Linked DNA regions of Homo sapiens: regions 1, 3 and 4 are each linked to region 2. The links come from fine-mapping of genetic effects on gene expression. A gene starts in region 2. Each other region holds a variant in brackets. All regions are shown on one strand. Distances are between the middles of the regions.

Region 1 (7,699 bases), 89 kb after region 2:
GACTGACATTTGTACCAAATCTGCCACTGATTACAAGCCCCATCCCTTCTCAAGTCCTCATTTTTTTCATCTGGAGGATGGAGGTGGGTATTGGTCAAGTTCTCTAGAGAAACAAAACCAGTAGGTTGTATGAATGTGTATTTTTGTGTGTGTGTGTGTGTGTGTGTGTGTGTGTGTGTGCTATCAACCAATAGGATGTATGAATGTGTGTTTATATATGTGTATGTATATCTCTCACACACACAGCATGAAGAAAGATATTTCTTTTAAGGAATTGGCTCATCCAATTATGGGGCTGGCAGGTCTGAAGTCTGCAGAGTAGACCAGCCGGCTGGAAGCATTGATGTTGCAGCTAGAGTCTGAAGTCAGTCTGTGGTCAGAATGGCTTCTTCCTTGGGAGGCCTCAGGTTTTTTGGGTTTTTTTTTTTTTTACCCCTTAAGATCCTCAACCGATTGGATAAGAATTGCCCATATTATGGAGGGTAATCTGCCTTACTCAAAGTCTACTGATTAAAATGTTAATCTCATCTAAAAACAGCCTCACGTAAGCATCTAGAATAGTGTTTGACCAAATATCTGGGTACTGTGGCTTAGCCAAGTTGACACGTAAAATGAACCATCACAGGAGAGTTTAGATGAGATACTAATACTTCCAAGGCCCTTCCTATCCTGATGGTCTGTCTCTGACGATCCCGAGAAGACCTCCCTGAGCTCTAATCCTGCCTCAGCCTCCAAGCCCGAGAGACCTGAGGAACACAGCACCTGTGTTCTCATCCCGTTTCTGTACCTGACGATCCCAATTCTGCTCCTCATTTTTCTCTGCTGGAAACTTCTCTGAAGTGTGAGAGTAAATCCTAACAGTATTTCGAAGGCCCATAGAGCAAAGGGGCCAAATAAATCCCAGCATCCTAAGCCTCGGATCTCCTCAGCTTCTGTGCAGAACTACTCTATTAATTGCTCTTTAAACTGGGGAAAAGTCTAAATTCAGAAGTTCGTCTTTATAACATGTCTAATGATTGACCTATGCAAATAGATTTCTTCTTCTCTCCCACCACTTCCAATCAACCAGTAACATCTTCCTGGAGCACTGTGTTGAGAAGGATTCTGAGATCCTATTCGGGCTTAGAGGAGAGAGTGCTGTGATTGATTAGCAATGTCTGCCCTGGATCAGGACTGGGGAGTGGGCAACCTGAGTTGTGTGCACCTGCCATTCCTGACACACAGCCTTGCAGTGTCTGACCACAACCTTAGCTCTACTTCCCTGAGGGAGAGAGTGACAGAGTCCAAGTGCTACACTCAGGAGACCTGGATTCCCACTCACTCTGCCACCAACTAACTGCACAGCTTGGATAGGTGACCCTCCGTGCTGTTTCGATCTGAAAAATGGGATCATGAAACATTGGGATTTTTGTGAGGCTGCAAGTTGATAGGATATGAGAAAGTGACAGTTTGAGATGATGTACCCACCATTTGTTTTGTTGGTTCTTCCAGGAGACCTGGTATTGGCACGGAGATGTCAACAGCAACAAAGTGGTCATGAGTGGAGTGAAGTGCTCGGGAACGGAGCTGTCCCTGGCGCACTGCCGCCACGACGGGGAGGACGTGGCCTGCCCCCAGGGCGGAGTGCAGTACGGGGCCGGAGTTGCCTGCTCAGAAAGTGAGAGCTCCTCCCCTCCCTCCCCACCGGGCTCCCAAGGGGACCAGAGTCCCACCAGTTATTCCTCAAGAGACTCTGAAGCCTTGCCATGAGCCAAGCAATAGAGGAAGGTAGAATGAAATCCTAAGGGAGAAAAACTGGGGGCAAGAGAGATGACCGCCACCCCAACCACAGATCGCTGTCTATGATGTAGTGGGGAGAAAAGCGGGAGGGAGGGGCTGCAGTCTGTAGCCCGGATTCAGTCACAGGACCACTGCTACTGCAGTGACCCAGGGCAGACTACATGACTGAGAGTGCCTCCGTCATGCCAGTTAAATGAGGTCGATGACATCTTCCATGGGTGTTGGCTTCCTCCCTCCACCTCCTCTGTAGAGCATTTCCTGTTTTCAGACCCTGGAGGTCACTTAGCTGCCCGGTAGTTCGCTGGGAGTCCTAGAGAGATTGAGCCCACAGAAGGGAATGCCAGCCAGGATTCAGGATGACCCACTTCCTGAAGCCTCCCTCCCATGCTGAGAGAAGAGGAGCAGTAGACAACCTTTTGGAATGCTGCCCTCCTGAGCCCAAACCCAGCCCTCCCTTTCCTGGCCTTGTAATATAAACCCACACGCAGCCATCTCCATTGGGAGGCCCAGGTGCTGGCCAGAGAACTTGAGACCAGACCCTGCCTTATTGGCTGATCTTGGAAAAGCGTGTCAGCCTCTGTGGTCTTTAGTTGTAGTTTTCCTTAGAAATTAGAAATCAAGTGTGACAATTAATATGTGCAAGGGCTTCATAAACAAAGATGCACTGTCATCCTGCCATCACGGAGAACGCGGGATTGAACAGCAGCTGCGTCTCCCACCAACCCCTTTTAGACTCACTAGCATCTCCTAGCCCTTGCAAAGCAGGACCTCAGGGCAGGCTTCGCTGGGCAGACATCACAAGCTATCACATCCTTGTGAGAGGAGAGATGGCGAGATCACCATCTTACCAGCTCCCCGGGGGAAAGCATCCCAGCAAAGAGGAACAGCCACTTCCCTGTCGGGGGCCTTTTCTTTATTTATCAATTTATTTATATTTGCAATATCCCATCTTTTCCAGAAGGAAATGAAGATAATACAAACCTAAATACAATTCAAGATAGCATAAAATAAAAACAGATGAAAGATAGACAGGTGCTGGCAAAATGGTAGTGGCTTAAAATGGAGCCAGGGAGGGGTTAATTTTACAAATGTGTACTAGGGGGTTCTATGCATTTATTATGAGTAGGTCATTCATTTCACAGTGAGCTTCCTAGCAGCCAGAGCAAAGAGAATACTGGTCATTAATATAACTAACAGTACCTGTGAGATAGAAATATGGCTGTGAGTCAAGAGAAGCCCACCACTCTAGAGATTAAAGGGAATTTCTCTCTGAGGACTGAGATTTATGAGATGAGCCATGCCGTCAGATCCTCATGGGAGATCCAAAAATGAGTTTCATGGGGCGATTTCTCAGAATGCTCCACAGCTTAGGCTGAAGCATCACTGGGAGTGTGTCTGCAGCGGGGCAGTAGGCTTTGGGGCCAGGAACACAGCTCTTGGCTGCTCTGGCTAAATGCACGTTAGAGTATTCAGGGAAATAAAGTAATTCTTCAGGCAACCCTTCATAATATCTTATTCTCACCCCACCAACTGCATATGCTAGAAATCTACACAACCTCCTTGATTCTCCCTCTTCCCCACCACCCCCATGTCCAGTCCCTCTTGATTTTTACCTTTCAGTATTTTCTCAACCTTCTGTATGTCTTTCCCTGCCACTGTTGCTGCCTGTGTCCAGATGACCACACAGCATCACTGCAAAGGAGATCCCTACAGTGATACGTGGCCCTGCGGTGGCTTCCCCTCCTCTCCCCTCCCCAAAGCCAGAGCCAAGGCCACGTCCCACTTAAATCCCACCCAAGGGTCCCACTGCACTTCCGTGACCAGGGGCTCGCACGGGGCTTGTGTTGTCCAGCCTCCTCGCTGGCCACCCCCTCCCATCCTCAGTGACTGCACCACACTGGCTTTGACCCTCCGTGGTGCCGCAGGGGCCTGGCACAGGCTACTTGTTTTTTGTTGTTGTTTTTCTCCTTTTTTATTTTTATTTTTATTTTTTTCTTTTTTCGTTTTATTTATGTATTTATGTATTTATTATTATTATACTTTAAGTTTTAAGGTACATGTGCACAATGTGCAGGTTATTTACATATGTATACATGTGCCATGCTGGTGCGCTGCACCCACTAACTCGTCATCTAGCATTAGGTATATCTCCCAGTGCTATCCCTCCCCTCTCCCCGCACCCCACAACAGTCCCCAGAGTGTGATGTTCCCCTTCCTGTGTCCGTGTGTTCTCATTGTTCAGTTCCCACCTATGAGTGAGAATATGCGGTGTTTGGTTTTTTGTTCTTGCGATAGTTTACTGAGAATGATGATTTCCAATTTCATCCATGTCCCTACAAAGGACATGAACTTATCATTTTTTATGGCTGCATAGTATTCCATGGTGTATATGTGCCACATTTTCTTAATCCAGTCTATCATTGTTGGACATTTGGGTTGGTTCCAAGTCTTTGCTATCGTGAATAGTACCGCAATA[A/C]ACATACGTGTGCATGTGTCTTTATAGCAGCATGATTTATAGTCCTTTGGGTATATACCCAGTAATGGGATGGCTGGGTCAAATGGTATTTCTAGTTCTAGATCCCTGAGGAATCGCCACACTGACTTCCACAATGGTTGAACTAGTTTACAGTCCCACCAACAGTGTAAAAGTGTTCCTATCTCTCTACATCCTCTCCAGCACCTGTTGTTCCCTGACTTTTGAATGATTGCCATTCTAACTGGTGTGAGATGGTATCTCATTGTGGTTTTGATTTGCATTTCTCTGATGGCCAGTGATGGTGAGCATTTTTTCATGTGTTTTTTGGCTGCATAAATGTCTTCTTTTGAGAAGTGTCTGTTCATATCCTTCGCCCACTTTTTGATGGGGTTGTTTTTTTCTTGTAAATTTGTTTGAGTTCATTGTAGATTCTGGATATTAGCCCTTTGTCAGATGAGTAGGTTGCCAAAATTTTCTCCCATTTTGTAGGTTGCCTGTTCACTCTGATGGTAGTTTCTTTTGCTGTGCAGAGCTCTTTAGTTTAATTAGATCCCATTTGTCAATTTAGGCTTTTGTTGCCATTGCTTTTGGTGTTTTAGACATGAAGTCCTTGCCCATGCCTATGTCCTGAATGGTAATGCCTAGGTTTTCTTCTAGGGTTTTTATGGTTTTAGGTCTAATGTTTAAGTCTTTAATCCATCTTGAATTGATTTTTGTAGAAGGTGTGAGGAAGGGATCCAGTTTCAGCTTTCTACATATGGCTAGCCAGTTTTCTCAGCACCATTTATTAAATAGGGAATCCTTTCCCCATTGCTTGTTTTTCTCAGGTTTGTCAAAGATCAGATAGTTGTAGATATGCAGCGTTATTTCTGAGGGCTCTGTTCTGTTCCATTGATCTATATCTCTGTTTTGGTACCAGTACCATGCTGTTTTGGTTACTGTAGCCTTGTAGTGTAGTTTGAAGTCAGGTAGTGTGATGCCTCCAGCTTTGTTCTTTTGGCTTACGATTGACTTGGTGATGCGGGCTCTTTTTTGGCTCCACATGAACTTTAAAGTAGTTTTTTCCAATTCTGTGAAGAAAGTCATTGGTAGCTTGATGGGGATGGCATTGAATCTGTAAATTACCTTGGGCAGTATGGCCATTTTCACGATACTGATTCTTCCTATCCATGAGCATGGAATGTTCTTCCATTTGTGTCCTCTTTTATTTTGTTGAGCAGTGGTTTGTAGTTCTCCTTGAAGAGGTCCTTCACATCCCTTGTAAGTTGGATTCCTAGGTATTTTATTCTCTTTGAAGCAATTGTGAATGGGAGTTCACTCATGATTTGGCTCTCTGTTCGTCTCTTGTTGGTGTATAAGAATGCTTGTGATTTTTGTACATTGATTTTGTATCCTGAGACTTTGCTGAAGTTGCTTATCAGCTTAAGGAGATTTTGGGCTGAGACAATGGGGTTTTCTAGATATACAATCATGTAGTCTGCAAACAGGGACAATTTGACTTCCTCTTTTCCTAATTGAATACCCTTTATTTCCTTCTCCTGCCTAATTGCCCTGGCCAGAACTTCCAACACTATGTTGAATAGGAGTGGTGAGAGAGGGCATCCCTGTCATGTGCCAGTTTTCAAAGGGAATGCTTCCAGTTTTTGCCCATTCAGTATGATATTGGCTGTGGGTTTGTCATAGATAGCTCTTATTATTTTGAAATACGTCCCATCAATACCTAATTTATTGAGAGTTTTTAGCATGAAGGGTTGTTGAATTTTGTCAAAGGCCTTTTCTGCATCTATTGAGATAATCATGTGGTTTTCATCTTTGGTTCTGTTTATATGCTGGATTACGTTTATTGATTTGCGTATATTGAACCAGCCTTGCATCCCAGGGATGAAGCCCACTTGATCATGGTGGATAAGCTTTTTGATGTGCTGCTGGATTCGGTTTGCCAGTATTTTATTGAGGATTTTTGCATCAATGTTCCTCAAGGATATTGGTCTAAAATTCTCTTTTTTGGTTGTGTCTCTGCCCAGCTTTGGTATCAGGATGATGCTGGCCTCATAAAATGAGTTAGGGAGGATTCCCTCTTTTTCTATTGATTGGAATAGTTTCAGAAGGAATGGTACCAGTTCCTCCTTATACCTCTGGTAGAATTCGGCTGTGAATCCATCTGGTCCTGGACTCTTTTTGGTTGGTAAGCTATTGATTATTGCCACAATTTCAGATCCTGTTATTGGTCTATTCAGAGATTCAGCTTCTTCTTGGTTTAGTCTTGGGACGGTGTATGTGTCGAGGAATTTATCCATTTCTTCTAGATTTCTAGTTTATTTGTGTAGAGGTGTTTGTAGTATTCTCTGATGGTAGTTTGTATTTCGGCACAGGCTATTTGTTTTGCCCTAGCCTCATCCTTAGTGTTACTTCCTCGAATCCCCACTCCTCCTTCAGAGAAAAACTAAAACACAACTTCTCCCAAAGCAGCCTCCTGACCACCTACCCGACAGGTTCCTCCCGTTACAATTCCCATCATATCTCCTGCCAGCTCTTGTTGCAGTAGTAATTATTATGTGCTGAATATGTCTGTCTCTTGTTAGTCTAGGGTAGTTCCACCTCTGCCTTGCTCAGCTCTGTCCAGAGAACCTAGCACAGAGCATCGTAATACTCGAGCCATGGGTAGGTGGGAGGATGCCACCTAGGAGTTCTGCTGCCTGCTGGATGCAGGGGAGGCCAAGTCCCCAACCCATGGCAGCTGTTGAGATTGCACATCTCAGGCTACCAGCTAAGCACAAACCATGGTACATTAACGATCCCTCGCCTTGCGAGCTGGCGGGAGAGCCCAAGTGGAGACCTCCATGCTCAGCTCAGAGGTATTCAGAGGGGCTGTCAACTAATAAGAGGCTCACATGACACCCTCATAAAAATAAGCGTGCCCAGAACACTCGGTGTAGGGCAATGCTGCATCCTGGCGTAGCCTCCAAGAAGAAATACTTGTCAGTAAACGGGAGCCTCCTGATTTACGGCTTCCGTGCCCCACCCCATGTGCCATCTGTGTGCACCTTTTCCCTACCCTTTGGTTCCACACCCAATTCTTGCGAGTGGATCTGCTCTCTAGAGGATGCCAGCTCCATCAGGTGCCAGTGAACTCACAGGGTTTACTGAGAACCCGCTGGACTCTGCTGCAGCCTGTAAGCCTGGAGGGGGAGGGGGAGAAGGGAGACAGAGCTCACTCCACGTGCTGGTGAACTTGAGGGAAGCAAAACTCACAGACTCTGCTTGCTTAAAATTTATAAGCAATTCTGCAAAGCAGTCTAGGGGGAAAAAAATTTACAAGCAACTTGTCAAAATAAAAGATGGCAGGATCTTGTGATCACTGATTCATATATGGCATTTTTCTGTGTACTAGAAGTGTTCACTGAAAGCTCACTTTTAAAGGTAAAGCCTACAGTTAATCCTTTT
Region 2 (7,699 bases):
CCTGACTGCACAAGCATGCCCTGAACCTACTGTACGACTCTGCCTCTGCAGCAGTGCAGGACCTGAGTGGTGGAGGTGGCAGGGTGGGAGGTGTATCCAGACTTACAGACATAAGGCATCCCGCCATCATTTTGTTTCATCTGGGACAAGGGTCTACTGTTGTCCTGAAGTAGTCTCCTAGGTCTTGATTTCAATTCAACAAAAGGGCATCAATAAAACACTCAGTGCAAACTTCAGATACTCTACTCATTTCCTCTTGGAAGTGAGGACATGGTAAGGCAGAGATGGACTTACTGAGGCCTCCAGTGTGGGCCACTAATACTTGCTGGACGAGTCAAGCTCCTTTTGGTTCTCCCAGCTCGGCCATTCCCTGCCTCTGTGACGCTGGGAAAATCACTTCTCTGAGCCAGGGCTTTCTCATCTGTAACAATTAGCAGGAACCACACTGTACCCAATCAATAAATATTACTTTCACAGGGGTAATTGTCATGGCGTAATTTACACTAGCAAAAAGCTGTAAACAACTGAATATCCAATAATGGAGAAATGACTCCATTGCACAATAATTTCAGACCAGAACTGTCTAAAACCATTAAAAATTACATTGAAAAATTAACACAAAATGATATAGTAAAAAAAATCAGAGGCCAGGTGAAGTGGCTCACGTCTGTAATCCCAGCACTTTGGGAGGCAGAGGTGGGTGGATCACTTGAAACCAGGAGTTCAAGGACAGCCCGGCCAGCATGGTGAAACCCTGTCTCTACTAAAAATACAAAAATTAGCCACACGTGATGGCACATGCCTGTAATCCCAGCTACTCGGGAGGCTGAGACAGACTTGGGAAGCTGAACCTGGGAGGGGGAGGTTGCAGTGAGCCGAGACTGCGCCACTGAACTCCAGCTTGGGAGTCAGAGCTAGAGTCTGTCTCAAAAAAAAAAAAAAAAAAAAATCAGGATACAAAAACTGTAACTACAATTTGGTTGAACAAATATTCTGAAGGAAAGACTCCAAACAGTAGGTGTTTATGGGTGATAAGACACCAGAGTGACAATTTCTTCCTTACATTTTACATATTTTCTGAATATTTCACAAGAAGTTTGCTTTTCTTTATAACAGACAAAAGATTATTTACAAAGTTGGTCTCCTTTCATTTTCTACCTTATTAGTGAATGCTTTAGCAAGAGAGGGTAGGACTAGAAGTGGAAGGATGGGAGATGGGGAAAGGGGAGAGCTCAGTTTCACCAGCATTTATTGAGCATCTGGTACGTCCAGGCACTGTGTAGGGTGTGACAGCTGAGTGAAAGCTCAATAACCAGGCATTACTGTGCAGAGAAGCCAAGGGAATGTCACGTTCAAAGGTCCTGGGGTGTGAAATAGAAGGCTTATAGGAGCACAGAAAGTAAGGCCCAGGGGGAGAGGTGAGATGTGGTTGGCAGTTGGGCAGGCTGGAAATGCCCCAGAGGCCCTGTCAGCTTAATCAAGGGATTCAGATTACATTTTTCTTTTTCTGAGACGGAGTCTCGCTCTGTCCCCGAGGCTGGAGTGCAGTGGCGGGATCTCGGCTCACTGCAAGCTCCGCCTCCCGGGTTCACCCCATTCTCCTGCCTCAGCTTCCCGAGTAGCTGGGACTACAGGCGCCCGCCACCACGCCCGGCTAATTTTTTGTATTTTTAGTAGAGACGGGGTTTCACCATGTTAGCCAGGATGGTCTCGATCTCCTGACCTTGTGATCCGCCTGCCTCGGCCTCCCAAAGTGCTGGGATTACAGGCATGAGCCACCGCACCCAGCCAGGATTCAGATTACATTTTGAGGACCTTGGAGCCACGGAGGATTTTTTTAAATTTTTAATTGAAATTTTATTGGGTGTATTACGTTCTATACAATTTTATCACCTGTGTGGTTTTCTGTATCTCAAGACACTGAATAGTTCCACCACCACAAAGATCCCTCCTCCTGCCTTTGATAACTACACCCCCTTCCTCTGACCCTTGCCCTCTACTGCCCACCAGAGTCAGGGACTGATCAGTGGGGAGGGTAAGGAGGAGGCAACGGAGAAGACCCCATATCTGCCTGGGAGAGCTCACAGGAGTCAAGGTGGACCGTGAGTTGCAGTGCCAAGTTTGGGGCTTGCCAGGTTAGCTACGGCCATGGGAATGTCCAGGTGAAAGTCTTTCGGGGCCAATGGATTTAAATATCCATGGCTTAGGAGAGAAGCCTGGGCTGGAGGTGAGATTTGGGAGGGGTTTGTCTCCTCAGGGAGTGGAGTAAGAGAGGACTGAGGAAGGAGCCGCCTTTCAGGTGACAGTCTACTTCTGCACAGGGGTCCCTTGTTTTGCAGCTCGCTGCCTCCTTGGGACTGGCAAAGCCCTGCTCTTGCTTAAGGAGCCCTCTCTGTGCAGAGGGCTCTCCCAGCATGCCCATCCCCCACCCGGAGCCTCAGAGCCAGGCACAGGAGGTCCTTCTGCACAATGGCCACGCATTAGCTGTGTCCTGTTCAGTCCCCAAGCACAGGGCTTGTTAATCCCAGCCCTACCATTCCAGGAAGGACCCCAGAGGTCACGGAATCCAAAGCGTTGAATTTACAAAGAAGAAAACTAGTCCTCGGAGAAGAGGCTTGGCCAAGGCCATAGACGTGATCTGCTGGCCGAAAGGGGGCTGTTTATTTACTGGTTCAGGATCGGTTTTCCCCCTACAGGAAAAGGGAGGTGAAACCCAGGCGAGATGGGTGCAAGTTTCTGAACACTTTCATTCGGCAGCTTTAATTGAGCGTGTATTATGTGCCAAGGAGGGCCAGGGTTTTCGGGATAGGAGGTGGACAAGGCACGGGCCCTAAGGCTGGTGGATAAGGACATCGAAGGGTTAAATTCTGGGACGGCTGCAGGGAGGAAAGGGTAGAGGAATCTCCCGAGGAAAGGCCCCCTTCCCGGCATCTCAGGCTCCGGAAACCCGGGCGCGAGGAGCCTGGGAAGGGCTGCCCCGCAGGCCTTGGCCTCCCCCGCGGAGCTCCCTCTGGCCCTGGGAGTGGCCGCTCTCGAATTACAACAAAAGAGGCCGGAGGCCGGGCCTGCTGCGGCGGCCGCCTTCGGGGAAGGGGGTGGGTCCGGGGAGGGGTTTGCCATCCTCCTCTAGTTAAAAGTAAGGGGGAAAAGAGTAAACGCGCGACTCCAGCGCGCGGCTACCTACGCTTGGTGCTTGCTTTCTCCAGCCATCGGAGACCAGAGCCGCCCCCTCTGCTCGAGAAAGGGGCTCAGCGGCGGCGGAAGCGGAGGGGGACCACCGTGGAGAGCGCGGTCCCAGCCCGGCCACTGCGGATCCCTGAAACCAAGTAAGAGCGCTTCCCGCGCCACCCCCTCCCCGAAGCGGTTCGCGAGAAAGCGGGAGCGTCCCTATGGGGTCTCCAGGCTTCGTCCTGCGCGGGGCTGCCTCTCGACAGTGCCTGGGGGTTCCCAAAGACTTCTTGCGGGGAGCGATGCGAGGACGTGCAGGCTAACGGGTCCTCCTGCCGCCCCGGGCGGCCCCGCCCAACCCCACCTCGTACGGGCCGGGCGCGGCGCGGCTGCTGGCGCGCCCGGGGAGCGAGGCGCTGGGTCCCTGGATCGTCCCGAGCGCCCGTAATCAGGCGGGACAGAGCCCGTCAAGTCTCGGTGTGTGCTGGGCGTCTTGGAGAGTGCAGCGTGGCTCCAGGGACAGCGTCTCCGGAATTCTGGCTTTGAGGAGTGGGGCACGCGGGGGACGGGTCGGGAGACAGTGACTGCCCTCGGGGCTGTGGTTTTGGGGATGTAGAGCGTGCTGGGCTGGGACGGAGTGGGGGCGGGGACCCCGGGGGCTGCGCCCGGGAGCTGTAGCGTCCACTGCTTGAACCCGGTTCAACCCCCAGCCTGCTCGAAAGGCTGTTGGGAGCGCGGGAGCGCCGTGAGTCCTGCGGGAGCAGAGGCGCTCTCGGCACGCCAGGTATGCACTCCCAAGTCGCCCTGCCTCTCCGGGGACCAGGGACCCTCTCCCGCCTTCATCACCTAGAAGCCCTGGAGTTGGAAAGAACGGGCACGAGCGAACCCACGGCTACAGCTGATCCCAATCTTGAGCCGTTGGTCCGGTGGTCTGAAGTGCCTACAACTTTTACGCAGGCGCTTTGCCCACCGCGCCCCTTCTCACCAGCCCAAATTTGGAAGCCCTCTGGGTGTGGCTGCCTGCTCGAGGTGTCCCAGGAATCAGCGCTGGAATAGAGATGATTGGGAGAACAAGCGAGGTTCCCTCCTCTCCGTGCCCGAGCTAAGACCATCAAAAAACAGCCGGAGTGCGGGGCGGAGCGGGGCGAGGGTGTGAGGAAGAGAACACCGCAGAACACGGCGAGGGAGGGGGCTGAACTACTCAATATGGTTAGGAAACCCCAAGTCCTGATGAGGGGAGAGATGTGCATGACAGAAACATGCTCCAAATTAGTTTCGTCCCTAAGATCTTGAAACTGCAGAGATCTCAAAAACAATACTTTTTTTTTTTTTCTCCCAGAGGAAGAAAAACGCTGAGGCTCACGGTCACTGAGTTAGTCAATGTGGGGACTGAAACCCATACCTCTTACTCCAGGCCCCTCCCCTACACCACTGCTAGCCTGTCCGTCCTGGAACCCCAAAACAACATTTGTCATCTTTGGTGGAATGAATTAGTTATTGATGGTGTATCATGTACTTAATGGTCAGGGTTGGGGTTTAGGGTGGAAGAGGAAGAGTTCATTTCCCTGGTCAGTTCCCAGATAAGTGACTGACTCACTGGATCCTAACTTGACTAAATTTTTAATCTTTCTCCTCACCTTTGTCCCGTTCCTCTTCCTGGTCCCTAGTATCTGCCCTGGAATGGCCACCAGAGCCATGACAAGATGCGTGCTCCCCATGGGCCCCAGTGGCTACCAAGGCTCTCCCCAAGGAAATTGAGTCTCACTAATCTGTGTGTGCACGCGCGCACGTTTGTGTATGCATGTGTGCACGTGTATGTGTGGGCACATGTATGTGTGCATGTGTGTGTCTCCACACGAGTGTGTTTGTGTATGTGTGTGCACCGGTGTGTGTTTATATGCGCACACAGGTGTGTGTGCGCGGGCACGTGTGTGTGCACGCAATGTGTGTGCATATGTATTCCTGTGTGCATGTGTGCACACCTGTATGTGTATATGTGTATTTGTGTTTGTGTGCATGTTTGCATGTGTATGTGTGTGTGCGCGTTTGTGCACTTGTGTGTATGTGTGTGCACGCATGTGTGCACGTGTGTATATGTATATGTGTGTTTGTGCATGCATGTGCATTTGCTTCCCTGTAACTTTGTGTTAGAAAGTGACTTAGTCTAAGGTCACTTAGGCATTGAGTGGCAAAGTTGAGTATGAAACTCAGGTCTGAAAACAAAACGTACTTAACACCACACATTGGCTGACATTTTAAGTATCACAGATAGGAGATTCTGCAAAGATGCTTCCTTTTATTTTCTTTCCAACTGGCCTCTCCTGGCCTCTTCCCAAGTCCTTGTCCTTTGACCTCTAGATGGCCAGTGTGGAAGGGCTTTGTGAAGGAAACAGATTTTCTGTGCTCTAGATAGACATGACCATCAGCGAAGGTGTTGAGTCCCAGAAAACACTACATTGTTTATTTTTTATTCTCAAAAAATTTCAAGTATGCAAAAAAAGTAGAGAGAAGGGTATAATGATGCCTCATAAGCTTCTCACTGAATTTCAACAGTTATTTTGCCACATGTACGTCATCTGTCCCTTTGTTTCTGTCATTGAAGTAGTTTAAAGCAAATCCTATACATCATGTCATTTCATTGCTACATATTTCAGTGTGATTTCTAAAGATTTTACATAACTATGATGCCATATTTAGACCTAAGAAAACTAAAAAAAAAATATTTGGTATCATCTAATGCCAAATAGCAGTCTATATTTAAGCATTTCCCAATTTTCCTCAAAATGTCTTTTTTTATAGTTGATCTGAGTTCTGTTGATTTGTGTAACTTGTTACATTCCTATTGTTATGTTCTTCCTTTCAAACTACTTTTCTGTCCACTATGTCATTTGATTCTTACAAGGTCCCACTAAAGAGTTAGGTGAGTATTTTCAAATTCATTTCTCAGCTGAGGAAATGGATAAACAGATAAGCTGTCCAGAGGGCACAGCTGGTGACCCAGGGAGCCAGGGTCTAACCCAGCCTCCTCATGGCTGGGCTTCGGTGGTTCTGGTTCTCCATGTTACTCGTGGACTCTCAGCTGCTCTCTGAAGAGTTCTTCTTGGCTCAGGCTTCATCCTGGGCTTATCACTTCCTATACACCTGCTGTCAGAAATCCCTGTGTAAATATTAGTAATTGGACATTTGGTGCTTGAGATAAATGAACTGCAAAATCAGGAAGCCAGGGTTTGTTTCCTAGCTCATTGCAAAACTGTAAGGGCTCAGAGCTGCCCTCTCTGAACTAGAGAGCAGTGTACTTCCTCATTATTTGACTCCAAGGTGTAAAAATAGGATGAGTGAAATGACTGTTGCTGGGATTCCTGGAAGAAACAAAGGCCCCAGAAAGAAATCTAGTAGAGGACAATCTCCCCTCTCTGAGCATCACCTGAGTACTCTGACAGCTGGTACCTTCATGCTGAAGCCCTCAAATCCTATGACAGAGAAGTAGGGGTATATAGGCTTCCCATTGAAGCCCTTAGTTTATGCATGACTTTATTCTGCATTTGACCAATGAAGATATGCAACACCTGATATGGCTTGGCTGTGTCCCCACCCAAATCTCATTGTGAATTGTAGCTGTCATAATTCCCATGTGTTGTAGGAAAGACCCGATGAAAGGTAATTGAATCATGGGGGTAGATCTTTCCCCTGAGAAGTAAATCTCGTGAGATATGGTTTTATAAATGGGAGTCCCCTGTACATGCTCTCTTGCCTGCCACCATGTAAGATGTTCCTTTGCTCTTCCTTTGTCTTCTGCCATGATTGTGAGGCCTCCCCAGCCATGTGGCATTGTGAGTCCATTAAACCTCCTCCCTTTACAAAGTACCCAGTCTCGGGTATGTCTTTATTAGCAGCATGAGAACAGACTAATACAACACCAGAGCCTTCTGCTTTTAGCATTTTCATTACTTAAGTTTATTTGCTTTTGAAATGGAGCGAAGAAGAAATTTCTCCACCTTGTTAATGAGACTCATAAGTTGGAATTCTCCTTTCTTGGCAGATCATGTGGGAAAAAGGAATCTCTTGGCACAGGACTCCTAGATGTTCTGCTGTTACGCTTGTTGCTTTGAAACAGGGAATGAACAGACCTTCCATAAAATAGCCAGTTAGAGGCAGAGAAACTGGTCAACCCGATTCCATCCAACGGGAGGAACTCCGAAGTGGCAAGACATTAACCTTAAATCACCCTGCCTTCTGACGGCCATAGATTCTTTTTCCTTAGCTAATAGGCTGTCTCCATGGAGGAAGAATTTCTAGGTGATTCCACACCAGCAGCTGCAGTTGCACAAGCATGACTGCTTCCTTCATTTTAAAGTTTGGGGAGCCTTAGGAGGTGTTTTAGTCCATTTTCTGTTGCTTATAACAGAATACCTGAAACTCGGTAGTTTATTAAACAAAAGGAATTTAGTTCTTACAGTTATGGAGACTGAGAAGTCCAAAGTCCAGGAGCTGTACCTGGTGAGGGCCTTCTTGCTGGTGGGGACTTGGCAGT
Region 3 (7,699 bases), 100 kb after region 2:
CCAGCTTTATCTGCCATCCGTTTTGCATCCAACACCTCCTCCCTTGACGAGTGCCATGTCTTAAAACACTGAGCTCTGGGATGGACGCAGTGGCTCACACCTGTAATCACAGCACTTTGGGAGACGGAGGCGAGTGGATCACTTGAGGTCAGGAGTTCAAGACCAGCCTTGCCAACATGGTGAAACCCCATCTTTACTAAAAATACAAAAATTTGCCAGGCATGGTGGCGTGCTCTGTAGTCCCAGCTACTCGGGAGGCTGAGGCAGGAGAATTGCTTGAACCCGGGAGACAGAGGTTGCAGTGAGCCGAGATCATACCACTGCACTCCAGCCTGGGTGATGGAGTAAGACTCCATCTCAAAAAAAAAACAAAAACAAAAAAGCATTGAGCTCTGGAGTCTCACGGTAGAAGGCTGTGTCTTCTTTTGTCCAGATCACAGTGACCTCCGCCAAGTGTCAGGCTCTCTCTCCCCTTAGCGTTCTGGATTTTCCTTCCAAGTCCATGCTTCCCTAACTCTACCCCAGGGATCCAGCCCCCTCCTAGATGCCCAAGGGTCACGACAGCTCAGCCTGCAAGAGGAGGAATACCTTCCTCGCCAGGACTCACCATCCCATCTTCCCAGAGTCCTGCTCTCTATTTCCTGGGGGGAATGGGTGGGTAGTGCTGGTGGGCGGGGGGTGTGGGGGGGCTCTAGGCTCTAATCCAGGCAGCTGGGAAGGAGATGTGGCCCTAGGGAGGGATGACCGCATACGCCTAAGAGGCAAAGCGAGATGCCCAGGACAGAAGCCAGGGAAAACTGGGAGGCCATGAAACCAGCTGCTCCCCTGAGTGTTTGCAGGGGAAAAACTGAAGCTGAGGAAGATTTAAATCAAGTCTGCAGGAAGCCCAGCAGTGGGACGGGGTCATCCTTACAAGAGTCTGTCTGTGCGCTCCGTCTGAATTCTGTTTAGACAACGGAGCATCAACCTATTTCTCTTCAGTCTTTCCAGCTGGTAAACATGGTCACATAAGCCCCTCTCTGAGCGATGCAGACATTTTTTAGGCAGTGAGTCAGACCTCATGTCTCTTCTTGCTCCTTCAAGAAGCCAAAATAGACTTTCTCAAAGTCGTCACTTCCACGGCCACAAAATGCCTCCTTGTGAATGTTCTCAGTGGAACCCGGGCTTAGCGTCATTTTACCCAGAAACATGAGTGACCGAGGGAAGCCCAACTTAGCAACTTCTGATATTATTTTTAGCACAGGCAAATGCAGGAGGAAGGGAAAAGAGCCTCGAATTTCCTCGCAGGAAACCTATCCTGTTCATTGCTGTCTTCCCCGTTCCCCGTGCCCCCACTGCCCGTACACAGCAGAGGGAACCTGAGGCCAAGGGCAGGGGGCTGGGGAAGTGAGGAGCTCCTGCCTGCCGTTGTAGCAGCAGTGTTAGTGGATGTAATAAAAATCCTGCCACCGTGACTGCTATGATGGGAGTGTCACGAGGAAGGGGACAGGTATGTCAAGTGCTGACTAATGTGCTACCACTTCGCATTAGTTATTTGACGCCGTTCATCTTATTCAATCTTGCGGCCCCGAGAGCGGGCAAAGCCACCCTCCCCTCTTTGCCGAAGAGGAAGCTCAGATCCTGCAGCAACAAAACAGGGGACTCTGCTCCCATGACTTGGCACCTTGTTCCTCAGTTTCCCTCATTTTCCAAATGTCCCTGTAATGGCAGAGACAAGCATATAGAATAGTTGCAGACACTTGTGACATGCTCGTTGCAGGTTGGGATCGGGCTAAGACAACCTCCTTCCTTCAGCCCCGGGCCTGGGCAGTGCAGGCTTCGGGAAGGCCCTGCAGCAACAGGCGACAGCCCCGTTTCCCTTGTTTATTCTGAAACAAGGGCTATTCTAAACCAAGCGCATGTGTTCCAAGACTCTGCATCTGTTCTCAATTCCTCCCGAGGGAAGAGAGGGAGCCTCGTTATGTAAACCAGCGGCAAGGGATTTGCAGCCTGCTTGCACAAGCTCTCCTGCAGAACTCTTTTCTGGAACCCCCGGGGACGTGCCTCCCTTTGCCGCTGCTGTGTGCCCCTGAGGATGAGTCAGTGTCTCCCTCCCAGAGGGCCTCCCAGCTGTCTTTCTGCTCCTCCCTGCTTTATTTGCACAATGCGAGGAGCACAGACTTGCTGCTCACCTCCCAGGGCCAGAGGCGAAGCTGCAGGCCCTTCCTGACCAGGTCTGAAGCACAGGCACGACCTTGGGGTACCTGTGTGTGTCCTGTGCAGGGCACATGTTCTATTCCTTACTATTCCTGTTCTTTCTGCTGCTCCCCCTTAATCATGCTTCTTACCCTTTGGTTTTTCTCCCTACCATATTCCATTTCAAAAGACGTCAAAATGCGGAGTTTTTTAATTACCCTGAAGAAAGTGCATCAAACAGGAAGGGGCTGTGAGAGCCAGTTGCACGCTTATTAAAAACAATAGCTGGAGTTCTGTGCTTATCATATGCAGTGCTGGCTAATCTGCTCACCTCCCTGGTACCCACAGCACCCCATGCATTACGATGATCATTCCCATTCAGCAGAGGAGAGGACGGAGGCTTAGCAAGGTGAGCAGTGGTCTGACTCCAGAGCCCTGAAGCTGCCTCTGCAGCACCGGCTTTCCTTTCCTCAGGCCTCTCATCCACTCCTCTCCCCACCCGGCCCCCTCTGGTCCCCTGGAAGTATTCCCAGAGGCAAATCGCCAGCCAGGCCTCTGCTTGCAAGCAGCAGTTGCTCCAGAAACTGACCTCCAGGCCATCTCTCTCTCGCTCCAGGCACTACCACAGCATGGAGGTGTTCACCCACTATGACCTGCTGAACCTCAATGGCACCAAGGTGGCAGAGGGCCACAAGGCCAGCTTCTGCTTGGAGGACACAGAATGTGAAGGAGGTATCTGAGCGGAGTGGGGGGATGGGAGGCCTCAGAGGGACTCGAATGCCTCTGCCTCCACGATCACCTGGCTGGAGCCCAGGCCTGGCACTGACCCTGTGTCACTCTGACCACTGCCACCTTTCCCCACCTGGACCTTCCTCAGCTATAGTGAGGCGCTGGGGGCATGGGCATGACCTGGTTCCAAGGGCACCCGGATTCCCCAGAGCTGTGCTGACAGGCACTGGTCGGTCCACAGGGCCTCCTGGACAAGATCCAGACTCTGGGGACCCTGCTCCATCTGGGCTTAGCAGCCTAGACCCTGATGCGTATGCCCCTCCCACTCTGGCTGCCACCAACCTTTTTTCTGGTGTCCCAATGC[C/T]AAGTGTCCCTACCACACCAGGTGTCACCCTTCAATTATATCTCAAATGCCCTCCTCTGAAGCGCCCCCCCGTCCCGGCAGGTGTGGCACTCTGCTCACACTTCTGGTAGGTCACCACACCTGCCCTGTGATCACCTGTTAGTGCACCTGCAGCCCTGGGGGCTCTTCATGGGGAGACATGTCAGTTCTTCTTGCTAGACCCACTGTTTACAGCAGTGTCCAGGCATGGCAGCTTCTCAGTAAATGCGTGTTTAATTTGTTATTCATTGAAGCGGCCCGCCACTGACTTGCCGTGAAATCACACAGCAGACAGGTGTTGACCTCTTACCATGTGCAGATAACATGTAAGTGTCAGAGAGACATGGGCCTACACTCTAATTGCCGATCCTCCAGAGGAGACAGACAGTATGACCCCCCACGTTTTGCTAAACCACAGGCACCAGAGATTTCCTCGGTCCACACACACGCAGTTATCCCCAGGCTGAGGATGTCACAGAAAGGCCAGGGTGGATCAGAGTGGTCAGGGAGGGCTTCATGGAGGAAGGGGAACTTGAGCCTGGCCTGAGAGAAGAGGCAGGATGTGGGTAGGGAATTGAGTGGGGGGTTCTACTGAAATGAGAACAGATGAGCAGCCCACACAGTGGGGTGGGATGCCGAGCCCAGATGAAGCAGCGGTAGGGGCCTTGGAAGCAGGAAGAGGGTGCGGCAGTGGGGCCATGGTTCCCTGGTGATGAGCTCTCCTCTACCCTGCCCGCAGACATCCAGAAGAATTACGAGTGTGCCAACTTCGGCGATCAGGGCATCACCATGGGCTGCTGGGACATGTACCGCCATGACATCGACTGCCAGTGGGTTGACATCACTGACGTGCCCCCTGGAGACTACCTGTTCCAGGTGAGGTGGGTGGGAAGGGGTTCCAGCCCTGCAGGGGGAGGAGGGGAGGCCACCTCCACAGGCTCCTTCCCATTGGTGTCCACACAGGGGCATGGAAGTCAGGCTGTCTAAAGGGCAAGGTGCTACCCCCAGAGGCCATCACGGTCCATCAGTTAACCCAAAGATATCAGGCATGGGGGCCTGAGAAATAGGGCGTGCACAGGACCAGAGACACCACAGGCATTCACATTTGATTGAGTTAACACCTGGTGCATGCAAATCAAAACTCATCAGCAGGCTAGATTTGCTCCTCCGGCCAGTTTATTCCATACATGCTCAGGCAACCCACACCTCTTGTCTCCTATGGAGCTCTTGTCTCCACCATCCCCATTTCTCCTAGTGCCCTAGGCTGCCTTGGTCTGTGCTTTCAAGACTGAAAGCAAACTCATAAAGAGCCAGTCACTTGCAAATATCTGTGACTTAGCTCTTCCGGAAATATCTGCCTCATAGAGGAGGATCTGCAGAAGGGGCCATTCTCAATGCAAAGTGAATCTATAAGAATAAAATACTGAACACGAGACACAGCCTGGCCAGGTGACTTCTTTGTCAGAGGGGTTGCCGAGATTTGTTTCCACATACTCTGGGTGGAAGGCCAGCCCTGAGGAGGAACAAGGGGGCCTTGGCTTCCCTCCTTCCTGAAAACAGCGGCATGTTCTGGCCAGGGCTCTAACTGGGGGAGAAAAGGGGCATTGTGTCCCTAGTGTCTCTCCCAGTGCACGGGTACACGTAGCCTGCAGAAGCTTTATCTCACCCTCTCACTCTCTCCTACGTCCTCACCCATCTCGTTTTCCAGCTTGCCCTGTTGGCTAGCAAAGTGGATGACCAGAAATGTGTCATTCCACCTTGAAAGCTTTCCTGAGGGGGCATTCAGCCAGCCCAGGGCCTGGCCCACGGTCCCCACCTACAGACAGTCCTCTGAAGAAACAACACCTTCAGAGAAGTCACCACAGAGGGGCTTTCAGAGAATTCCTGGGCAGTTTCAGAGGCTGGAAAGCAGACAGCCAAGCACTTTTCCACCCACAAGCCCAGAACCACAGACTTGGAGAGGCCTAACCAGAGAGTTATTTATTTTAAAAGATGAATAGCCGTGGCCATGTGCACGTATACAGTGCCTGGTGGTTTCTGTTTGAGGTTTGCTATCATTTTGCTGGGTGAGTGTGTATCTCCCTGTATTCTGGCCAGTGCCATCCACTTAATAACTACTATCAATTGCCTAAGCCTGGGGAATGCATTGTTTGATTTAATCTCCCAAGGAAGGGGCATCATCATTACCCTCATTTCACGGCCACCCAACCCCAGACATATCAACTCTTTATTTTGTTTTCTCAACCCCTAAACAATACAATTAGCAAATGGACTCATTAGGGGCATGTTAATACCTCTGATTAATCAAAAAGAACATTCCCCTTAAGATAGACATGGAGCTTCTTTAGGTGCCACAAGCACCGGCCTGGGGACTCACGGGACACAAGAGGTGGTCTTCACTTCAGACATCAGTGGTGCTGTGAAGGACAGGAGGAGGGAGCTGGGCGAGGAGGAAGTGACCGTCCACGCAGAGGGACCTGTGCAGAGCTCAGAGGCAGGGGTGAAGGGGCCTCCTGGCTCCTGGTGGCCCCGCTTTATCCGCTTTCTCATCATTTCCTAGATTCACAGACATACAGAAACCTAAAGCCACTTCCCGCAGGCCCTCGTGAGATGTCGGTCTGCAGTAGATGAGTGGGGTGAAACAGTGGGGGACACACATTTCCAGCCCCGCCTCCACCCCACACGTAACACTGGCCCTCGTGTCCCCAACACGAGCCCTTGCTGCATCCAGCCGCCCTCACGGCTGCACTGTCGAGACGCCTGGGCGGCCAAGGAGCTGCCTAGGCCTGCACAGCTGGAGGCCTTGGCATGTGGAGCTGTGTTTGCCCCATGCCATGTGTGGGCCAGGAACGAGGGGGCAGCTAGAATGGTTGGGTGGAAAAGAAAAAACTCAAGCCGCCCCGGAGCAGGGCATGTACCTCCTTAGCTAAAGGCACAGGGCCCCAGCGGGACACAGCTGAGCCAGGTGCAGGCCCCCAGAACAGCCCCGCTGGGCCAGAGCAGAGGGCCGGCTGCCAGGCTGGCCTTGGCTTCCCACAGCACCTCTTTGGGCAAGCCCAGCGGCCTGCTAAAGGTTCGTGTCCAGGCCCTTCTGGGGCCCCAAATTTAGAGAATGTTCCTGAACGAGCAGCCTGTACCCGCCCCCCTGCTGTGGGTCGCAGCCCTTCCAAATGTGGCAGGACCCTCGAGGGAAGGCCTGTCATCTGTGTCCTCTGCCCCTCTGTTCACCACTGTTGTCTCTTCTCCCTCTCCCTCCCTTTCTCTTTTCTCCTCGGGTCCTCACCGTAAACCTCCCCTTTTCTGTTCCCTCACAGACACTCTCCCAGAATATGTCCTTCCTATTCCTGCTGTAGCTGGGGGGATGCGGATACAGGGGTGGGTGGAAGGATGGGGAGAGGGTGCAACTTCTCCAGCAGCCCCAGAGCCAGGCCCTCGGCCAGCAGAGCAGACAGGGACATGGATCCCCAAGTCCCACCTGTCACTTTACAGAGAGAGGAAGGGACATGTCCACAGTCACACGCCTGTGACGAGTGTCCCATCTCCAACGCCCAGGCAGCCCTCTTCCAGGTTCCCACACCGCCAGGTCCTCCCTGCACCCTTCTGCTTCTCTTCAGCATCTTCTTTTTGGGGCCTCCCCAGACCCCAACTTCTGCCTTCCCCAGAACTCCCAGGAGTGGGTGACCCCCTTCCGAAGGCCCACCCTGGGTAGAGGGGTGTGTGTTACACGGATATGGACAGAGGGCAGGGTTTCCCTCTTCCAGGCCATGCTTCCTCTGCTCCCTGACTCATCTCTTCCCCTCCCCAAGGACTTTGTTGAGACCCACAGACCCCCGTCTTGGGTCCCGGCACCTGCCACGCTCCCCTTCCCTGAGGTGCTGGTCTCTCAGAGCCCCAGGCCTGGGTGGAGGTGGCCGCAGAGGGAACAAGCAGCCTCCTCTGCCCTGCTTCTCCCTAGGTTGTTATTAACCCCAACTTCGAGGTTGCAGAATCCGATTACTCCAACAACATCATGAAATGCAGGAGCCGCTATGACGGCCACCGCATCTGGATGTACAACTGCCACATAGGTAAGGCCAGGCCGCCCCCACTCCAGGAAGCAGGCGGGAGCTGCCCTACTTTCTCAAGGACCCAGAGGCAGCTTCCTAATTTGGGTAAAGAGCTCGGGGAATGCAGCCAGCATCACATTTCCACATTCAGGACAGAAGCCACAGACACACAGGCCTGGATGGAGACTGAGTTTTTACAGCCAGCTCCGGCCACGGATAGAGGATGGTACAGGACCAGGCCAGCCCAGTGCAGACCCCAAGGCTTTTTAAGGGTTGGAGCTGAGGCCACTGGCTCATTATGTATGTGACCTCAAAAATGTGGGCATCAGCAATCTGTGGGCTCTGCCTATCAGGTTTTTCTGTCGAG
Region 4 (7,699 bases), 22 kb before region 2:
CAACAAAACTACCTTTCAGTAAATTACTTAGTTATTTATTTCAGTGTTTTGTTTCTTTTGATACTAAGTTTCCCTTTCAATAATGAATGATGTGACCAACCAAGGAGAATTTGTTTGTTCTGTACTAAAATTATATTTTACAGTTAGGAATTATAAAAAGCAAGGGAGCATCTTTAAATGTTTTTTGTTTAAGCGATGTCTTCCATCCAAAGTAAGAATAATACTCTCGGAAGGTCCTTTTGGTGTCATGTCACTTGCTGTATGTGGCAGCCTTACAGTGCCACACTTGGGTACTGAAAAATCAATAAAACGAAAGTTCATCATCCCATGGCCCGTAGACTGTGTGGGCTTGCTTCCTTGTCATCTTTGAATCTTCTTACTCATTAGAATGATGAGTTGAACTTGAGTCCAAATTCAGTGAAATACATTGTCTGAGTCTGACGCACACTCTTTGCATGTGTTGTGTTGGGTGTGCATACAGTGAAGCACAATTGTGTGGGGTTGTGGAGAGGGCGTCCACACTCTCTGCAGCTCAGAAAGCAGATATTTCACAAGTAGTGACCAACCCACGACGTTAAGCCATTCACCAACAATAATTGCCACTCTGAGATGACTGTTTATAAGGTCACCATTTTAAGTACCTACTTGTATATAGACAAGGAAAAGTAATAAAATTAACCAATTTTTATGTATTTAATAGTAACAGCAAATGCTGACTTTATGTTACACTGTTTTGCAGTTCGATCTAAGCTTAGAACCTTTGGCTTACTTCCAGAAAATTATGACTGTCATTATTAATGTTACGTGTTACCAATATGGAGGATGACATTAGACGCTCAGCATGTTTCTCAGCCGTTGGAGAATACATAGATGTTCTCCTGGAGCAGGAAGGTGGGCCTGAGCCATAACCTGAAAATAGATGATAGAGACAGATGGGAAGGGAAGGGGACCAGCTGTTAGGACCAACAAAAATAAAGGCCTGAGACATGCCGGAGAGGAGAGGGAAGCGCAAAAACAAAATGAGAGAACAGAGCCAGCAAAGTGAGCTCAAGGGAGGTCCTCAAGCCATTGATCGCTAGGAAAACAGGACACAGCATTAAGATAGAACTGTCGTAAATAATTTTTGAGGCAGTGCAATGACTATAGGGCTTTTTGCCTGACTTTAAATACGTTAAAATATCTAAGATGTTAAAAGACATCTAAATTTTTATTCCACTTGGTGGAAGAGAAGTCAGTGCCTATTTCCAACACTAACCATGTTGACAGGTCTGAAAAGCCATGGTTCTGTGTTTTTGTTTTCAGTCTGTTTCCATTTGTCCTATGAATTGGCATGTGCCCTGTGGGTTTTTTTGGTTTTTTTGAGATCCGGAAATGCTAATGGTTTGCACAGAGGGGGTCGTGAGGTGCAGGTCACCTCTGTCAGAGTCACAGTGTCTTCTTTTGGAAACGTCATGAAAAGACAAAGGAGTGCCCGGCTAATCCCAAAGCACGCCTTGGCAGAGTGGATCTGCCTGGAGCATCCATCCGTGGCAGCATGAAAGGCAATCCTGTGAGAGTCTTCCTGGCCCCACCTCGTCTGGGAGCATGTGGGCCTGTGATCCCACCTCCTCCTAACAAAAGAAGAGTGTGTCTGTTGATGTGTTTTATTTTGCTTTTAGCCAGGCTAGTCCCCCTGCCCTTGCGCAGTCCAGCCTCTTTCTATTAATAGATCTATTAAGGTTGACTGAGACCTGCTGCAGGGGACGCTAGGGGCACTTTGGCCTTCGATCTTTGCCTTTCACCCTTGACACTGTTTGGCAGGTGAACGACATCCGGGCTCCAGACTTCATGGCCACTTCAACATTTCTGTCAACAGCCTGTGTCTGTTTCATGTAAGAGGCCCAAACAAGAAAATCAAGGCTTAAGAAGGATTTCTGCCTTGAGTAAAGGACTGAAACCTCCTCACAGAACACGATGGTGACAGGCACAAAAGACAGACTTCTTGTTTAAGTAGGTGAACTCCAAAGACGAGAGAAAAGGAGTTTTTTTCCTCCCGTTCAACCAGTCATCAAATAAACATCTCAGGCATCTGGTGTTTTGTCAAGGGATTGGGATTCCAGTGGCCCCTGTGTGACTGGAAGGGGAAAGGTTTGTCGGTGGCAACGCCATCGAAACACAAAGGAGCAGCTTTAGAATCCCCAGTGTGGGTCTTCTCTTGTGTTATTTCTACAACATCCTTGTGCCAGCTGTTCTTGCTGTTCTCTCAGGCTTCTAATTGGGAGTGTGAATACTACCTTTCACCCTTTTTGCCTTCATGAGAATCAGAGTTTGAAGTGGACAGTTCTGAAAATATTAATCATCTTTTTTTTTTTTTTTTTTTTTTTTTGAGACGGAGTCTCACTCTGTCGCCCAGGCTGGAGTGCAGTGGCGCGATCTCGGCTCACTGCAAGCTCCGCCTCCCGGGTTCACGCCATTCTCCTGCCTCAGCCTCCCTAGTAGCTGGGACTACAGGCGCCTGCCACCACACCCAGCTAATTTTTTGTATTTTTAATAGAGACGGGGTTTCACCGTGTTAGCCAGGATGGTCTCGATCTCCTGACCTCGTGATCCACCTGCCTCGGCCTCCCAAAGTGCTAGGATTACAGGCGTGAGTCACCGCACCGGGCCTAATCACCTTATTCTTGCCTGTCATTACACAAGCCTTAAACTCCAGGGACCAGACTTAGCACTTTCTTTTCCTAAGATTGCTTTTTCTCCCACTTGGCCCAAGCTTTAATACCCAGATTTTAGACTCAAAACACTTAAAACATTTGGTGGGCTCTCCTCAGCCTTGTAAAGTTCTTTGATACTGGTCATGGCAGCACAAGAGAATTTTCTGGAAGTTCCTGGCTGTTTAATGTTCAAATTACACGTTTAAATTCTCTCCCACCTCCCGTGGCCCTGTTTTCCATCAGTGTATCTATTTCTGGCCCAAATGTCCTTGAACATGGACCATGACAGGTCCTGTGTTTACTTTCCATGTTTCTACATTTATAATCCAGTAAAGAAGACACCGAGTAGTACATAGTATTTTGTAAATATTTGTAAACTAATGAAAATCTGGTTTCTTTCACAAATCACCTCTTTAGGTTTCTAAAATTTATGAAAGAAATCTTTTAAAATCTATTCTAGGCCGGGTGCAGTGGCTTACGCCTGTAATCCCAGCACTTTGAGAGGCCAAGGCAGGCGGATCACGAGGTCAGGAGTTTGAGACCAGCCTGGCCAACATAGTGAAACCCTGTCTCTACTAAAAATACAAAAATTAGCTGGGCAAGGTGGCGGGCGCCTGTAGTCCCAGCTACTCAGGAGGCTGAGGCAGGAGAATCACTTGAACC[C/A]AGGAGGCGGAGTTTGCAGTGAGCCAAGATTGTGCTACTGCACTCCAGTCTAGGCGACAGAGCAAGACTCTGTCTAAAATATATATATATTTTATTCTCAATTTTTGCTGTTCTTTCCAGATGTGCAGAGTTGTGTGTGGTTTTAAAACCATATGCAATGTGCCGTGAAGGGCGGGATGGAACCCAGGCCTCTGAGTCTCAGTTCTCTGTTCACTTCCCTCCACCAGAGTTTGTTAAGGGAGTGTTGCATTTTAAAGCTTTATTTAGAAAAACTTAGGAAAACCAAGTTTACCTCAAGTGGTTTCCTTTTTTCGCAACCTGTTCAGCCTTGACAGAAAGGAAAAAGAAATCCCAGAATTAGGTAGTAATAATAGAGGCAAAGTGAGATTGATATTTTCTGAAGCCCTGCTTACAGAAAATAATTCCTGCATATTTATTTTATTCTAAACATAGCTTCAGATTGTTTTTCATTCTAAGTTGTCCTTAAAAGTCACTTTTTAAACCTCACAAGAAGCACCAAATGTAAGGGGGAAAGGATGGATTTGACTACATCTAAAGTAAGACTTTCTGTTCATCAAAGCTAACAGATGGCAGACTAAGAAGGTATTTGCAGTGACTGAAATTGAAAAGGGATTAAAATGTACAAAGTTTCATGCAAAACAACAAGAAAAAGGAAATCCAAAAGAAAAAACCGGCCATGGATATTAATAGGTGATTCACAGCAGGGGAAACCCAAATGGTGAACAAGAGATAAACTAAGCTGAAGAAATGCAAATGTAAATTAAGACCCACTACCTTATGCCCCTCAGAATTGCCAGACTTCAAGTGCTGGCAGTGATGCGGGGCCTGGACTTCAATATTGCTGGTGGTGGTGCAAACTGCAATGCGTACCCCAGAAGGGAAGCTGGCAGCTTAAAAGTTAGCAGCGTGTGTGCCCTTTGATTCAGAGAGCCACTTGCGCGTGGCTCTCCGGAGAGATTTCTACCTGGGTCCATGAATGGACTTACGGAAGGATTCCTTGGTAATGATTCTGAGTGACTGTGTTGATGGAGGCAAGCAAGGTCTTGGACAAGTCAAAGGCGGCAGGTGCGTACCATGGAATACTGTATAGCCATGAGAGACAGACCTAGAACTATGAACAGCAAGCGGGTGGCTCTTAAAAATAGTGTTGAATACTGAAAGCAAGACATGAGAATTGTTGTATAATGCCATTATGTTAATGTAGGGCATACGGCACTGTATGTCCTATGAGGATGTGCATATTTTGATTCAAATACATTAAAATGGACGTTATGGGGACACAGATTATTTATGAAAGGAGGAGAAAAGATAAAACTGATTTCCTTGTTTTAGGGTGACCTCACATCCCAGTGAGCCCCTCAATTCAGGGCCAGGGAGGTTGATTGGTTACCCCACCCCAACCCAACCCAGGCTGTTTTCAGCACGGCAGCCTGATAAGCTGTGATTCAGACCTTGAAGTTGTTAGGCAAAAGCTCTCCACTCGGCTCTGTATTTGACTCAGGAAGAACTGAAGTCTTTATAATGGCCTAGACAGCCCTGCACCGTGGCCTCCCACTCCACACCTCTCTGACCGCAGTCCTCATTTCTCCGAGACTCCGCTCCAGCCACCCTGGCCTCAGGGCCCTCTCAGGACTTTCCATCCCCCTCACCCTGCTTCACTTTCCCCCATGATGCTTATGACCTTAGATCTAGTACACTCTGTTTTCATTACGTTCTATGTACGACTCTCCCTATTACCCTACTAGAACATGAGCCAGGGGGCAGGGGGCTTTTGTCTGTGTGTTTTCATGTTGTATCCCCAGGCACAGGATCTGATAGGCGGTAGACATTCAATAAATATCTGTGGAATGAATGAACAAGGCAGGATCCTTAAAGCGAGGGGGAATGACCAGGCTGAGAACTGAGAGAGCATGCTAAACTCCACAGTCTGGCCCCAGGGATGGGGGCAGGAAAGATGGCACCACCTCCTTGCTTTATTAGAGGGAAAGAAGGTGCTTCTTGTGCAGAACCGTCATCATAACAGAAAGATAGCTTATTACACGCCAGGCACTGTTCTAGCTCTTTGTTAGCTTACATAATCCCTGTATTAGTTCGTTTTCACACTGCTATAAAGAACTTCCCAAGACGGGGTAATTGATAAAGGAAAGAGGTTTAATTGACTCACAGATCAGCATGGCTGGGGAGGCGTCAGGAAACTTACAATCACGGCGGAAGGTGAAGAGGGGGAACCAAGACACCTTGGCAGGTGGCAGGAGAGAGAATTAATGCAGAAGGAACTACCAAACACTTATAAAACCATCAGATCTCCTGAGAACACTATCACGAGAACAGCACAGGGGAAACCACTCTCATGATTCAATTACCCCCACCTGGTCTCCCCCTTGACATGTGGGGATTGTGGGGATTATAATTCAAGATGAGATTTGGGTGGGGACACAAAGCCTAACCATGTCAGTCCCCAAAATGACACCATGAGGAGGTGCTTTGATTACCGTCACTTTACAGGTGGAGAAACAGATGTGGAAAAGGCACACAACTTGCCCAAGGTACCGAACTAGCCAGTGGTGGGGCTGGGATTTGAACGCAGGCAGCCTGGCTCCATTCTGTACTCTAGAGCTGCACTGTCCAGTATGACGGCCACTAGCCACATGAAACAGGCCAATCTAAACTGAGATGAGCTGTAAGTATAAAATATACACCAGATTTCAGGCCGGGCACAGTGGCTCATGCCTGTAATCCCAGCACTTTGGGAGGCCAAGGCGGGCGGATCACGAGGTCAGGAGATTGAGACCATCCTGGCAAATATGGTGAAACCCCGTCTGTACTAAAAATACAAAAATTAGCCAGGCATGGTGGTGGGCGCCTGTAGTCCCAGCTACTCGGGAGGCTGAGGCAGGAGAATCGCTTGAACCCGGGAGGCAGAGGTTGCAGTAAGCTGAGATCTCCCCACTGCACTGCAGCCTGGCAACAGAGTGAGACTCTGTCTCAAAAAAATATATATCTATATCTGTCTGTCTATATATAGATATAGACACACCAGATTTCAAAGACTTCATGTAAAAAAAATATGAAATATCTCAGTTTCTTTACATTGGGTACATGAGACATGACAATATTTTAGGTATATTGAGTTAAATAAAATATTATTGGATTAACATCACCTGTTTCCTTCTACCTTTTTAATGTGTACACTAGACAACTCTAAATTGCCTGTGTGGCTCACAGTATATTTCCGTCAGACGGAGCTGCTCTCGGTACTTGCTTCTCAAAGTGTGGTCCTTGAATCAGCAGCATCAACATCACTGAAGCCTGACGGAAGTGCTGGATCTCAGGCTTGGTCTCAGACCTCTTGAATCAAATTCTTCATTTTGCCAGCCTTCCAGGTCACTCATAATGCATGCTCACATTTGAAAAATGCCGCTTCAGACCAGGCAGCAATTTTTTTCTCTAAAGGGCCAGATAATAAACATTTTAACTTTGCAGGCCACATGACTTCTGTCCAAAACTCACCTCACTGCTTCTGTAGTATGAAATGAGCCAGAATATGCACGTGAATACGGATTCCACTGTAACCTGCACGGACCTAGGGGGACTGAACAAAGCGGGGCAAACACGGGAATAAAAGACAAGAGACAAAAGAGTATATTTTGAAGAAGGGGTCAGGGGGTACCTTGCCCCTAGTGGACAAGGGCCCTGAGCTTTATACAGCCCTCCTTATTTATTAGGCAAAAGAGATAGTGAGAAGCGGGGTGGAAGAAGGGGTCAGCTGCTCAGTCTAGAGCAGGCTTGCAAGACTGCATTCCTCGAACAACAGGCTAAATGTTGCAGTAGATAACCTCAGCGCCAGGGAGTGATTGCCTCCAGCAAACCTTCTGTCGGCAGGAGCAGTCGTCAGTTTTCTCACATCCTGCATTCATGATAAACAGTTTGCTGTTGGATCATATAGCCTCCAGTGGAATGCTGCGTTGGTCACATCCCATGGGCCTTCGGCTCCCTGCATATCCCCCTTTCTGTTTATGAATTAATTGAAAAAATGTAAGGCCAGGCTGGGCAGCTCTCATTCTCCGATTGGCAGTCCATCCGATTTTACAGACTATAAACAGAAGACAGAGACGAAACAACATTATTCCAAGAACTACATATAAGATGTTAATGTGGTGCCTTAGATAGGTCCAAGGGTTGAGGCTCTCCAGGCCTTGCTGGAATTTGGTCCCGTCTTCTAAAGAAGGCTGAAATTCTTGAGTTTGCCTATTTAAATCAAGAATTTTGTTTTGTAATTCACCAATATCAAAGGTGATGTTGGATGTGAACGCTCCCTGCAAATG

Direction of the effects. Positions count from the first base shown, and alleles are read on the strand shown. Sizes are in standard deviations (SD) of each study's normalised expression. Not every link is listed here.
For the expression in esophagus muscle of the gene that starts at base 3,160 in region 2, A is the high allele of the variant in region 1 and C is the other (small effect, 0.23 SD a copy in GTEx).
In carriers of allele T in region 3, the expression in tibial artery of the gene that starts at base 3,160 in region 2 tends to be higher than with C alone (small effect, 0.22 SD a copy in GTEx).

What was found. PIP is the estimated chance that this variant, and not a neighbour inherited with it, causes the effect.
Region 1: its variant is the best candidate, but not a certain one, in a credible set for the expression of LOXL2 in esophagus muscle (GTEx, PIP 0.60).
Region 3: its variant is the best candidate, but not a certain one, in a credible set for the expression of LOXL2 in tibial artery (GTEx, PIP 0.71).
Region 4: its variant is the best candidate, but not a certain one, in a credible set for the expression of LOXL2 in blood mononuclear cells (TOPMed, PIP 0.83).

The regions. Positions count from the first base shown.
Region 1 is chr8:23,310,907-23,318,605 of GRCh38, reverse strand. It overlaps LOXL2 (lysyl oxidase like 2), which reads left to right. Exons shown (of 14, transcript NM_002318.3): 9 at 1,492-1,657. Among named protein-coding and RNA genes, the nearest start is that of LOXL2-AS1, 21 kb to the left of the region's middle. The variant A/C (reference allele first, on the strand shown) is at 4,256.
Region 2 is chr8:23,399,581-23,407,279 of GRCh38, reverse strand. LOXL2 (lysyl oxidase like 2) reads left to right here and starts at 3,160. Exons shown (of 14, transcript NM_002318.3): 1 at 3,160-3,326.
Region 3 is chr8:23,298,490-23,306,188 of GRCh38, reverse strand. It overlaps LOXL2 (lysyl oxidase like 2), which reads left to right. Exons shown (of 14, transcript NM_002318.3): 11 at 2,792-2,907; 12 at 4,026-4,162; 13 at 7,242-7,353. Among named protein-coding and RNA genes, the nearest start is that of R3HCC1, 14 kb to the right of the region's middle. RefSeq lists enhancers at 3,607-4,107, 4,108-4,608. The variant C/T (reference allele first, on the strand shown) is at 3,269.
Region 4 is chr8:23,421,791-23,429,489 of GRCh38, reverse strand. ENTPD4 (ectonucleoside triphosphate diphosphohydrolase 4) reads left to right here. Exons shown (of 13, transcript NM_004901.5): 13 at 1-328. Among named protein-coding and RNA genes, the nearest start is that of LOXL2, 22 kb to the right of the region's middle. RefSeq lists an enhancer at 6,768-7,268. The variant C/A (reference allele first, on the strand shown) is at 3,354.